Linked DNA regions of Homo sapiens: all the other regions are reported to be linked to region 1. Evidence: microRNA targets listed by miRTarBase, many of them from high-throughput screens and not tested one by one. Region 1 holds a microRNA gene; each other region holds the end of a gene's coding sequence.
What was found. The annotated mature microRNA hsa-miR-744-3p reads CUGUUGCCACUAACCUCAACCU and lies in region 1 at 2,003-2,024, shown strand. An mRNA with a match to its seed (bases 2 to 7 or 8) in the 3' UTR can be bound and repressed. Matches are read on the target gene's strand: a 7mer-m8 pairs with bases 2 to 8, a 7mer-A1 pairs with bases 2 to 7 and ends in A, and an 8mer does both.

Region 1 (3,122 bases):
ACTTTGAACTGAAAAGCACTTGTATGAATGAAAGCTTATCACTTAGTATGATTTGAAAGTCTGTTATTTGGAACACTGATTTAGTAAATTGTTATTTAGACCAAGTGTATGAATCTTTGAAGTGTAACTTTGAACCTTAATATTAGTACATACGATTATTCTCAGAGTGGGGGTAGATTTTAAAGTTCTAAGTTTTTTGGGAACCTTAAAGGTTGCTACAGAAAACCATTCTACTAATTGGAGAAAACTTTCCTAAATTTTGGAAGAAGAAAAATAATGACCAAGCACATAAACTTTGCTTGTTTGCATCATAGGATCAGAGTTTAAAAGAGATCCTGATCATTTAGTATGAAACTGAAAAATGTAGTTGATATTTAATGAATTCTTTCATTGTGTGTATGGTTGATAGTTTGTTCCTACACATTGGGGTTTGGTGTGTGTGTGAGAGAGAGCAAGAGAGAGAAACAGATTGATTTTACATTTTTCATTGGATTTACTTTTTTACAAAGCATGGTTAGAAGTTATTAATACTTTGATCTCCAGGTTGAGATTTTGGAGATGATTTTTTATTTAATGGAAATATGTAATGAGTGAGCTCTTTTGTCTACGAGCCACTCATTTTTTATCCCATTGCTTTATCGAACGAGGGCTGAAAATTTCAATTTTGAATAGCACATGGCAATTTTCCTCTTAGAGCCAGCTAGCTATTCAGTTAACTGTTCTCCCACCTCAGGATGGTATTAACAAGAACAGGACAGTATACTAAGGCACTAGTTCCCAAACATTACTGGAATCATCTGGGGGTCTTTAAAAATACTGTTTTCTGACTCCTGTCCCTGGATAATTCAGATGTAATTGCTATGGGACGATACCTGGGCATTGAGATTTTTAAAATCTCCCCCAGGTGATTGTAAGGTACAGCAAACCTTGGGAATAGTTGTACTAACTGAAGATTGAGGCACTGGAATAACTAATGTTGGGTAAGATAGGGTAAGAACTTTTTCGCAATAAGGTTTGCAGCTCTTGGGATTCTCACTTGATAATGCTGTTTGGATAAACCATCATCCAAGTTTGAATAAGATCTTATATTTAGAAATGAAAACTGATCTGCAGAATTAGTTTAATCAATAAATGGGAATTTTTAAAAATCTTCTTGGCAATTTGTTTTTATGAATCCCGTTGAAGCTGTGTCTATTGACTACCTAAATCTAGATCATTCTTAATCCAGTGTGTAAAAAACCAGGATGACACAAATGAAAAACTTCAAAAACCTGGAGGTCAGACTATTTTAGTAATTTAGAAAACATTTTTCCCACACATTAATCAGTACTAAAAGAAAAAAGTTAAAACCTATTTAAAATGTGGAAAAATTGCTTCCCAATATTTTAACAGAGAGAGACTGAGAACACACAGCATTGAGTCATCAGGAAAACTGAAGATCTCCCCTGAACAACACTGGGATTTCACTGCAGAGGACTTGAAAGACCTTGGAGAAATTGGACGAGGAGCTTATGGTTCTGTCAACAAAATGGTCCACAAACCAAGTGGGCAAATAATGGCAGTTAAAGTAGGTGATGCCATGATTATTTTTGGTACTTTAATCCATTAGGTGAAATTTCATGGTGCAGTAATACCACTGTTGTTGTGTTCCTACTTTTGTGGTAAATGTGGGTGTTTAAAAAATTGTTTCTCCAACTCCTTTGAGGGTGTTCTGTGTAGAGGTTTCTTATTGGTGGCACATTTTCTATCTCTTTGGAAACATGAGTGTATGAAGTGTGCATGTTGATTGCATTTTTGGCATGATGCATTAACATGTTTTAAACTTCAGGCCCTTCTACTGCCAAGGTGAGTTCAGGCTGGGCGGCTGCACCCCTGGGAGCAGGGCAGTGCTGCACTGAGCCAGGCGGGAGCTGGAAGAAGACGCAGCACACTGGGTTGGGCAAGGTGCGGGGCTAGGGCTAACAGCAGTCTTACTGAAGGTTTCCTGGAAACCACGCACATGCTGTTGCCACTAACCTCAACCTTACTCGGTCCTGACCGGCTCGGCTTCTGTTTGTTTATTTCATCTCTACTCAGTACTGCCCTGTTCCCTGGTTTTAAAGTTGTACTGAAATGCATACCTTGTGATAATGTTGTCACATTTTGTCCTTATTGTGTCGTGCCACTTAATATGTTCATTAAAAAAAAAAAATGGCCAGAAACAGAGATTTGATCCATAGACAATACCTGGCAAGCTTATGCTGGTACCTGTAAAGAACTGGTGGTTTCCATCTGACTCCTAGTTTCATGTAATTGTAATTTATTCATTTGTTTGTTTAGATGTTTAACAAATCTTTGCTGTATGTAAGATATTTCAGGAAAATCAGCAACAGGGGGAACAACTTGCAAAAACAAAGGAAAAAAAGCTAGCTGTGGCCATACCCTCTCTGAGCTTAAAATTCCTATGGGAACAAAAATGTTTCAGTTTACAAGAATTCAGAATGGATTTGCATATAGTCCAAGCTAATCATCTTCCTATTAGTGTCCTATTTTGAGAGTTTGTCAGAGTGGTTGATAAGAGTCCTTAGTTTTTTCTTGACATTTGAGAATGAATTTAAATTAAAATAAAATGCTTTCTGTGTAGAAGTCTGTTGTGAGCCAAACCTTACTGTAACTATTTTAGTATCCTTCACTGTTGAGCATTTCTTTTTGCTGGGTCATATGAAAGTAATGTTAAATTAGTGGTAGGGAAAATTTTTATGATTCTCTCTATGGGTTCCTAACATTGTTTTTGGCTGTATTTTTAAAATGTGGTGAGAACTATAGACTTTTCATAGGCAGGTGTATATACACAACATTTTGTATACAAACCGTAGACCTCTAAAGATGCACAGGTGAAGAACTCTGCATTATGTGTTAAAATAAAATGTTTTATTGGAATGTGAAATGATTTCTGTATTCCTATTTTGTGCCACTGCAGTGTAAGTGGAAAGAGTCATTTTATTTAGACTCCTGGATGAATGTTGTGTTGTCCCTTTGTGCTACCTGTGTGTGACATCCAGTTTTAGTTGGCTGGATCTTAAGGGAAAGGTTTCCTATATAGTTAAAGTTGTAAACTTTTCTTTCAGGTACTAGGGAAAGTA
Region 2 (3,122 bases), not on the chromosome of region 1:
GTGACTTTCCATTTGGTGACAGAGCAGAGGGTGCTGGCAGAGCCAGGGCAAGGGCGTGCAGGGCCAGGCTGCACGGCAGAGACGTTCTGCCCATGGCAGGAAGGAGGCGGCCTGGTGATCTGCCCTTGAACCTGCTCCCACACCCCATCCCCCAGAGTGCCGAAGCTGCAGCCGAGGCCACCAAGAATATGGAAGCTGGAGCCGGAAGAGCCAGTTATATCAGCTCAGCACGGCTGGAGCAGCCAGACCCCGGGGCGGTGGCAGCTGCTGCCATCCTCCGGGCCATCTTGGAGGTCTTGCAGAGCTAGGGTGTGTGACTGCCTCCCTTGGCCTCAGCTCCTCTCACTGCTGTGCTGAGGTGGCCTTTGTCACTTCCTTCTGCCTTCCAACCCTCACCTTCCCCCGGCCTGGCCCCATTGGCCCACCCTCTAAGTTGAGCAGGAAATCCTCCACCAAGCTTCCAGAACTACAGACAGCACCCAGAGTGAGCTGGAGTGGGTCCCCATGCCTCTCCAGCATGCCCTTTCCCTTTGCAGGAGGGTGGAGTCCCTGGGTCATGCCCTCCCCTGCCAGCTCTGGGCTTCAGAGATAAGGCATTTTCCTTGTGCAGCCTTTACCTGGCAATCCTAATTTGGTTTTAAGACTCCCTGTGAAATGCTTTCCGCACCTTAACCCCAGTGAGCGTGAAAAAGAAAGTTAATAAACTATAATACATGGAAGCAAGAAAGACACTGCCTCCTCTGAGGGACCTTTTCCCAAGCATGTAAACAAGGGGGCCCACAGCCCTGGCTGCAGGCATCATGACCCATCTTCTACCAGGCAGATCTTTATTACCTGAGCCCCTAAGGCAGTGTCTCCTCAGCTGGGCTGCTTCCACTGAGACCCCCGACCCATCCCCTTTCCAGTACACACACCTGATGCATGTAAGAATGGTAGAGGGGCTTTTCTTAGCATTGAATTAATAATTCAGTGGCTCCTCGGGAGTCGAATGGGCATTTGGGACACCAGAAGGAAAAGAAATCATCATAGTCTAAGGTTCAGTTGTAGATCAAAAAATGCAGCCAGGCCGGGCACGGTGGCTCACACCTGCAATCCCAGCACTTTGGGAGGCCAAGGCAGGCGGATCCCTTACACTCAGGAGTTCAAGACCAGTCTGGGCAACATGGTAAAACCCTGTCTCTACCAAAAAATACAAAATTAGCCAGGCATAGTAGTGTGTGCCTATAGTCCTAACTTGGGAGGCTGAGTTGGGAGGATGGCTTGGGCCCAGGAGGTCGAGGCTGCGGTGAGCCATAAGCATGCCACTATACTCCAGCCTGGGCAACAAAGCGAGACCCTGTCTCAAAAAAAAAAAAAAAAAAAAAAGAAACTGCAGCCAAGCCAGCCCCTAGGTCTCTTTCTAGAGCGATCACTGATGGCACCAGGGTGAGCAGGGGCACTGTATGCATGTGGAGACAAACAGCACATGCCTGGCACACATGTAGGGTAGGGAGTGGTTAAAGGCACTGGCTGTCGACTCATACACATGATCTGAAATCTGATTCTGCTTTAACCCGGCTACAGGAGCTAAGGCCTATTTTTTAGCCCTTTGGGATCTGTAAAATCAGAATGGTACCCACCTCATGGGGACATGAAAGGATTCAAATGAATTGATGAAGATGGGCCATAAAGCCCAGCACAGTCCAAGTGCTCACTCACTGAGAGTTACGGTTATCACAGGGGTTGGGCCCCCAGCCCCTCCCAGGTCATCTGCTCTACCACTAGCTGGTAGGAAAGAGCCTCCTGCCCTCCCAACCCCCGTCACCTACTTGGCCCAAATTTGGCTGCAGGCTCCCCGAGTGCCTGGGCTTCTCTACCCAGGGTCCTGTCTGTCGGCTGCACCATACGTCCCTGACCACAAGGCATCCACGTGCACAGGAGTATGCGCCCAGCAGCTGGGAAGGAGGCTGACCTCAGACGGTGGCCTGTGGATCCCAGCTCTGTCATTTCCTGGCTGGGTGACCTCAACCTAGTCACCCTTTTTGAGTCTTGTTTTCTCAGATTATGAAATAGGAAAAATTTCCTTCCTCGTGAGATAAGCACGTGCCATTAGCTATTAAGGACACGCACATAAATGAGCTGCATGTGAATCCACACATGCCATTCCATGAAGACAGAGGATCATGTGGATCTTTGGTGCCTTCCGGTTGGCCCCTCCCTAGGTCTGTGAGGGTCAGACCTGTCCTGAGGCTTTTACAAATTGGCCCAGAACTCATTTAACCACAGCATCATTTCATTAGAGGGCTGTTATTAGAGACTGAATGTTTGTGTCCCCCCCAAATTCCTGTGTTGAAAGGCTCACCCCCACTATGGTAGTGTTAGGACGTGGGGCCTTTGGGAGGTGATGGGGTTATGAGGGTGGAGCCCCAGAGAGCTCTCACGCCCTTTCCACCATGTGAGGTTATGGTGAGAAGATGGTCTCTGAGGAAGCTGGCCCTTGCCACACACCACATTTGCCAGCGCCTTCATCTTGGATGTCTATAGCCTCCAGAACTGTGAGAAATAAACACTTGTTGTTTAAGCCACCCAGGCTATTATATTTTTGTTATAGCAGCCTGAACAAAGACAGCTTTGATTCTTAACATATTTAATGAAACTCGAGCTTCATAAACCAGTGAAATGCCTACCCCTATGGAGATGGGGAGCTGGTCATGGGACCCAGGTGCCTGGAGGACATCCCAGTGGCTTTGAAGGCTCCAGCCAGTCAAGACGGTCAATATTAGCCCTTCTGCCAACATCTGGCAATGTGAGGCTGGGGTGGACGTTGGCCTGATGTTGCCAGGAGTAGGATGCTGATGCTGCCAGAGAGTAGGTGGGCTCCAAACCCCAGGCTTCTCACTTGCTTACTAAGCACAGCAGTCTGAAGCTTGGGACCTGGCAGTGCGTCTTTGGAGAAGGCAAAAAAGCCACAGCAGCAACACTTAGGAGCAAGACCCTTCCCGCTCTCCACCCTATTTCCTCCCCTGAAGAAGAGCAACAGCTCAAGCTCTAGCATGGCACAGAACGCTAGGTTGGGCCAGGCAAGCAGCCATGGTGGGGCCAGGTGAAGCAATGTGGGTCTCAGCAAGGAACCCCTCTGAAGG
Region 3 (3,122 bases), not on the chromosome of region 1:
TGCTGGCCAGGTGGTGCCAAAAATCAATAGCTTAAGTCTAATCCGGACAGCCAGTGCTTCCTCAAGTAAATCATTTGACTATGTAAATGGCAGTCAAGCAAGTACCAGCATTGGGGTTGGCACTGAGGGAGGTACTAATTTAGCAGCCAACAATGCTAATCGATACTCAACTGTCAGTCTGCAGGAAGACCGGCTAGGTCAAGCTGGCGAAGGTAAAGAGCTCCTCAGCCCAGGAGCCCCCTTGACCAAGCAGTCTCGATCCCCAAGTTTCAATATGCAGCTAATATCCCAGGTGTAGTTTTGACATCCTCCCTCATCTTTCTGCTTACCTTTTAAACTGAACATTTCATTGTGCAAGAAGACACTTCATCCCACATTGTGAAAATATTGGTCACTGTTATCAGATTTCATTTAGTTTAGGTATCTTCATACTGTATTTTGTATCAAAACAGCAATAAGGTTTTCTTTATCCCTCTTTCCTACATCTTCTCTTCACCTATCCCTTGTAAATGTGTTTGTGAAGCAGTATAAAATGGTTGCCTTTTCCATGCCTTCCTTTCTCCTTGGGTGATGTGCAATCCATCGTAGGCTGATCGGTCCCATTTCAACACTGTGAGACTGAGGGTACATTAGAGGAAATGGTGTATATGATCCCTATGAAACGATTCTTTGGCTTTTGTTTAAAAACAAAACGGGTTTGTTCTCATAATCTATAGAACTATGAAGATTACTGGATCATATTTTTTTCTCTTAACCAGGAGTGCCTCAGAGATTCTGCTATGACTTTGGACTTCTCTGAGTCTGTGCAATCATTTTCTGGAGAAGCATGGGGAAAGGTGGTAGACTGCTGCACTTTTTCATTAAAATGAGGGTAGCTCTTTCTCCACCCCCCCATCTCCTTTATCCCGAAGACATAAATGTTCAATTACGGAGGCATTTAAATCAAGTTGTGACCACCTCCATTGGAGGGCAGGACTCTTGATTGTGTAATTGATAATGCACTTTCTCAATGGCTGTATAGTCATTATTAACGTGTCTTCCCTCTTCCCCACAAGGACATATAAGGTCATTTCTGTCCTTCAAGTTTGGCCAACTAACAAATCAGAATCTGAGGGGCATGTTCTATTTCCCAGGAATGATTGACACTTTGGTGCTGGGGTTTTGTGGGGGCGGGGGGTAGTTTTTGTTTAGCTTTTGTGGAGATTGTGTGTGTGAGAGGAGATTTGATTTTTTTTTCTTCTTTTCCTTTGTGAGCTGATGGCTGAAGTGTAACAGTACATCTTCAGGTAAAGAGAGGGATTTCTCAATCTACTTTCTGTTATGTCAGACTATAAGAGAAACCCTTTCAGCTGCTTTCTAGATGTACCTAAATTCAGTCAGACATTTTGGATTAAGAAACCTAAAGTCCTGATACATTACATACTCCAAGGAAATATATCAGGGACAGACAATTGGCTGAAACACTGATACTTCAATGTGACACATTTTTATAGAACATTTCTACCAGGGGGTACTGACCTTGATTTCTCCTACAAGGACCACACTGCCTTTGTGTTTAATGTAATGCAATTTGTGTACCTTCTAATCATATATCTGCAGTTCCTCATTTTTATAAAACTTTGATATCATGCCAGTAAGCTAGATGTTGAATGTATGTAAGTAGCATTTGGTAACTGCTAAGAGGTTACAAAAACATTATTGGTAAAAAAAATTTCCTTAGTTCTGATCTGGTTGGATAAGATTTTATCATAACTTTTCTGGGTCTCAGGCTCTGATGTTTGAAAAAGAAGGGAATATATTGGGTTTTAAAAAAGTGTATTGTGACTTAAACTGTTATAAGTTATCCTTCCACAGAATACATCAGAGCTATCAGTGCTTTGTACATTTAGATGTTTTTACTTGATTATTGTTTAAGAAAAATATACTGAATTTATAGAAAGCAAGTATTCTCCTAATTAGCAAAAGTTAAAATTTTATCTCTACCATTAAAATTACAATAGATTTTGATAAATAACCAGAAAAAACGCCTTTTTTTTTTTCACACCTAGCAATCCTCCCGTTTTTATTGTAAGGACTTTCTTTTTTCCCTAAGAGACTTTCTGTTAGACTCTTTATATATGAGATGCTTGTTTAAATATGGTGGTCTGTAACATTTTTCCAGCTCATGTGAAAATGGAAAACTAGAACCTGAACTAGTATCTACAACATTGCCAAAGTCCAGGGTAAAGCTAAAAGTTGATAAGTAGACAATTTATTGTTTTGTGTGTGTCTGTGTGTGTGTGTGTGTGTGTGTGTGTGTGTGTATGGTGTGTATATGTATATATCACAAAGTTGTATTTTAAATATTTTAAATACCCTTTCTTTTAATTTAAGGGATGTCAAATAAATGAAAGGAGTTTAAAAATAGCCAAAATAAATGAGCTATAAAGGCCCATAACATACTAAAACAGGCAGTTTCAGGTATGTAAGGAAAGGAACATTATACTTACCTAGAAAGTGAGATCTAAAAAAAAATTAAAAATAAATAAAAAATAAAAAAGAAAGTGAGATCTTGGCTATGGCTGGAGGTCAGTCACTTTATGGCATAAATTATTTGGGAGGTAAAAAGACTGTTTTCAATTCAAATTGTGCATTTATTGGCATCTAAATCTAGCATGATTTTGGTTAGAGCACAAAAGAAATACCACATAATACCAAATCACAGCAAATGTTAGAATTAATACAACAAAATTTTCCTTTGGCTAGAAATCTTATGTTATACCTGAAAAATTGGTTTTAAAAAATGTTCATCTTGGCCGGGCACGGTGGCTCACGCCTGTAATCCCAACACTCTGGGAGGCTGAGGTGGGTGAATCATGAGGTCAGGAGTTCGAGACCAGCCTGGCCAACATGGTGAAACCCTGTCTCTACTAAAAATACAAAAAATTAGCTGGGCGTGGTGGCAGGCGCCTGTAATCCCAGCTACTCGGGAGGCTGAGGCAGGAGAATCTCTTGAACCTGGGAGGTGGAGGTTGCAGTGAGCCAAGAATGCACTACTGTACTCCAGCCTAGGCAACAGTGCAAGACTCCATCTCTGAAAAAAAAAAAAAAAAAAAAAAAAAAAGTTCATCTTAGAGGATTTT
Region 4 (3,122 bases), not on the chromosome of region 1:
GGTTGTCTTCGTCCATTTCCTATTGCTTGTAACAGAATACCTAAAACTGGGTAATTTATAAAGAAACAAAATGTATTTCTTATAGTTCTGGAGGCCGAGAAGTCCAAGGTTGAGGGGCTGCATGTGGGAGCGTCTTTTTGCTGGTGGAGACTCTCTATAGAGTCCTGAGGCAGCGCAGGGCGTAACACGGTGAGGGGCCTGAGGGTGCTAGCTCAGGTCTCTGTTCCTCTTCTTATAAAGCCACAAGTCCTACTCCTGTGAAAACCCATTAATCCATGAGGGCAAAGCCCTCATGACCCAATCATCTCTTAAAGACCCCACCTGTCAATACTGCCACATTGGGGAATAAGTTTCTACATGAGGTTTTTTTTGTCTTTTTTTCTTGGTTGGTTTGTTTTTGAAACAGGATGTCACTTGTCACTCCGGCTGGAGTGCAGTGGCATGATCAGAGCTCACTGCAACCTTGACCTCTGGGCTCAAGTAATCCTTTCACCTCAGCTCCTGCATAGCTGGGACTATAGGCATGCACTACCACACCCAGCTAATTTTCTTATTTTTTGTAGAGACGGGGTCTCGTTATGTTGCCCAGCCTGGTCTTGAACTCCCGGGCTCAAGCAATCCTCCTGCCTCAGCCTCCCAAAGTGCTGGGATTACAGGCATGAGCCAACATGCCTGGCCAACCTGAGTTTTGAAGGGGGCAAACATTCAAATCATAGCAATTATGAAACAAACTTACTAAATTTCCATATGATACTAGCTTAATGAATAAGCTCAAGCTCAACGGGAACATAGCAAACCCTTAACATTTAGCAAATATTTGTTACATAAGTGAAGTGCAATTATTAGAGATAGAAATGGAGTTGGGTAAACTCAGGCTAGTAAACCTGAGGAGGAAAAAGAAAGTGAATAATTAAAATGCAGGGTAAGACTGGCTGTGTACAAACACAGAAGAGATCTCTAGGTCCCAGAAGAGACAACACATTAATGAAAAAAGGGAAGGGAAGATGCTGAGGGTCTGTTCTGATTACAACCTTACTCCCTTTATAGATTAACAGTGGGTCCTCAGTTCAAGCATGAGTGACATAAAGTAAGTTGTTAGCACAATTCACCAGCATCTGTTTACTTGTTACTATGCTTCCTTCTTGGGAGGCATTCCAATTACAATGACTCAGTTACCTCCTCCACCTAGGGGGACTGTGAAAAACAAACTTTTAAGCTGAAATATTCAAACTATTTGACATCAGTCTGAAAAGATGCATTGTTCATCCATTCAATAGACATTGATTGCCTACCCTGCAAGGTGCTGCCATGGGTTGCAGGACCCATGATGCTGACCGGCAGATAGGATTCCTACTAGCGAAGCTTGCAGTGTAATAAGGGCCAGAGTTGTGGGGCACAGTGCAGGATACAGGGCAGATGATAGAGCGAGGCTGTCTGAAGCAAGAATGGAACCTTGGGCATTTTAGAGCAGTGAATCAGTCCTTCAGGACCATGTGCTCAGTTTTTGCTTGAAATGTAACCACAAAACACACTTCCCAAAACAGGGAGTTTTGTTTCCTAGTATATTCAGTTCTGCAGTAGGGCAGATAATTTGGCAGGGATTCCAATCCACTACATTCGATACTGCTTTGACCCAGACTAGTTAACTCTAGAGGTTGGGGCTCCATATGTGAAGCAAAGTTGCTGAGCTATTAAAAAATAAGACATATGAGGAAAGGTTAAAATATGAGATTATGAAGCTGATTGAGGGAAATTGCTGGTGATTTAAATAATGGCTTTCAGACCTCCAATGTGTATATGATTGATGCTGGGCTGAGAAACTTTTCTCTGAATTTGAGGCCAAACACAATTGAAACAATGAGGTCTGTCAACAAAAGGTAGAACTGTCATCATTATTAGTCATGTTATGTTGATGCTGCAGTAACAAACATGCAAACAGAACAACGTGTAGTATCAGGGATGGGAGTACATAAGCCTAGAAGCTGAGACTCAAATTTCATTTTTAGTTTCTTTAAAAAATATTTTTGTTTAGAGACAGGGTCTCATTCTGTTGCCCACGCAGGAGAGCAGTGGCGTGATCCTAGCTCACTGCAGCCTCAACCTCCTGGGCTCAAGCAATTCCCCCACCTCGGCCTCCTGAGTAGCTGGGACTGCAGGCGCATGCCACCATGCCCTGCTAATTTTTAAATTTTTTGTAGAGTCAGAGTCTCACTATTTTGCCCAGGAAGGTCTGGAACTCCTGAACTCAAGCTATCCTCCAATCTTGGTCTCCCAAGGTTCTGGGATTACAGGCGTCAGCCACTGCGCCTGGCCTCATTTTTAGTTTTGCAAGTAGTTAGATATTTCCAAGTCTGGATGTCAGGAGAAACAAAAAAAGGTCCCCTGTGGCCACATGCAGAGGAAGGGCTGTAGACACAGACTAACACTCTGTTTCCTGCTCTTTATTTGATTTTATTATTCTTTGAAAAAAACAGATATGAGAATTGCCGATGCACAGGCCAGCCTGTGCTACCATATGTGGGCTTTGAAAAGATTCTGGATTTTCTGTCTGTATGATAATATGTGCTGCTGTATAGAGCAAGGAAAACAGAGGTGGTTTTCCAAGCTCCACAGCCCATCTTTATCACTGCCAGGTAAAGCTCTGTCCCTTAAAAGTTAGATACAACCAACCAAGTGACATTTATTGAGACTCTACTATGTGCCAGACCTGGGCAAGGTACCTTCTCATAAGGTCGAGCTGGATGACTGGCTGGGATAAAGGATACAGCCAAAACGTGGGGGTCCAACAGGAGGTCGTGGGGACCACATGCTCATCCACAGGACCTGATCTAAGCTTGTTCATAGACCTTCTGTGTATTTTCCTTATAGAAAATAAGAGGATTTTGCTTATCATTTCTTTTCCATTGTTGTCAGTTTCAGTTTTTTATATGTCCTAATAACCATATATTTCATTTTCCACCCATCCAGACTCCTTACTCCTCCCCATTTGGTCTGGGGAGAACTCATAAATGTCATTGGTCACAAATCCACTCTCCACGCTCACCAGAGTCACAAACCCACTTTCTGATGGGTTCACAGCCATGTTGTCATAGTCACAAGACATGTCATCGGGAGTGGCTTCT

Region 2: miRTarBase lists TKFC as a target of hsa-miR-744-3p. Seed matches in the 3' UTR shown: 7mer-m8 at 1,157-1,163 and 8mer at 1,320-1,327.
Region 3: miRTarBase lists HYCC2 as a target of hsa-miR-744-3p. Seed matches in the 3' UTR shown: 7mer-m8 at 3,051-3,057.
Region 4: the mRNA of LAYN is a reported target of hsa-miR-744-3p. Seed matches in the 3' UTR shown: 7mer-m8 at 2,049-2,055.

What each region holds. Positions count from the first base shown.
Region 1 is chr17:12,079,964-12,083,085 of GRCh38, forward strand. It overlaps MIR744 (microRNA 744), which reads left to right and starts at 1,936; the gene lies at 1,936-2,033. It overlaps MAP2K4 (mitogen-activated protein kinase kinase 4), which reads left to right. Exons shown (of 11, transcript NM_003010.4): 3 at 1,393-1,567.
Region 2 is chr11:61,346,196-61,349,317 of GRCh38, forward strand. TKFC (triokinase and FMN cyclase) reads left to right here. Exons shown (of 18, transcript NM_015533.4): 18 at 156-3,047. The coding sequence ends at 308. CYB561A3 (cytochrome b561 family member A3) reads right to left here. Exons shown (of 7, transcript NM_153611.6): 7 at 2,610-3,122. Among named protein-coding and RNA genes, the nearest start is that of CYB561A3, 14 kb to the right of the region's middle.
Region 3 is chr2:200,978,446-200,981,567 of GRCh38, reverse strand. HYCC2 (hyccin PI4KA lipid kinase complex subunit 2) reads left to right here. Exons shown (of 13, transcript NM_001321623.1): 13 at 1-3,122. The coding sequence ends at 298. The region is part of intron 1 of LOC105373835 (a long non-coding RNA gene); the gene reads right to left. Among named protein-coding and RNA genes, the nearest start is that of ORC2, 16 kb to the right of the region's middle.
Region 4 is chr11:111,560,269-111,563,390 of GRCh38, reverse strand. It overlaps LAYN (layilin), which reads right to left. Exons shown (of 7, transcript NM_178834.5): 7 at 1,646-3,122. The coding sequence ends at 2,933. Among named protein-coding and RNA genes, the nearest start is that of LAYN, 21 kb to the right of the region's middle. RefSeq lists a silencer at 1,093-1,387.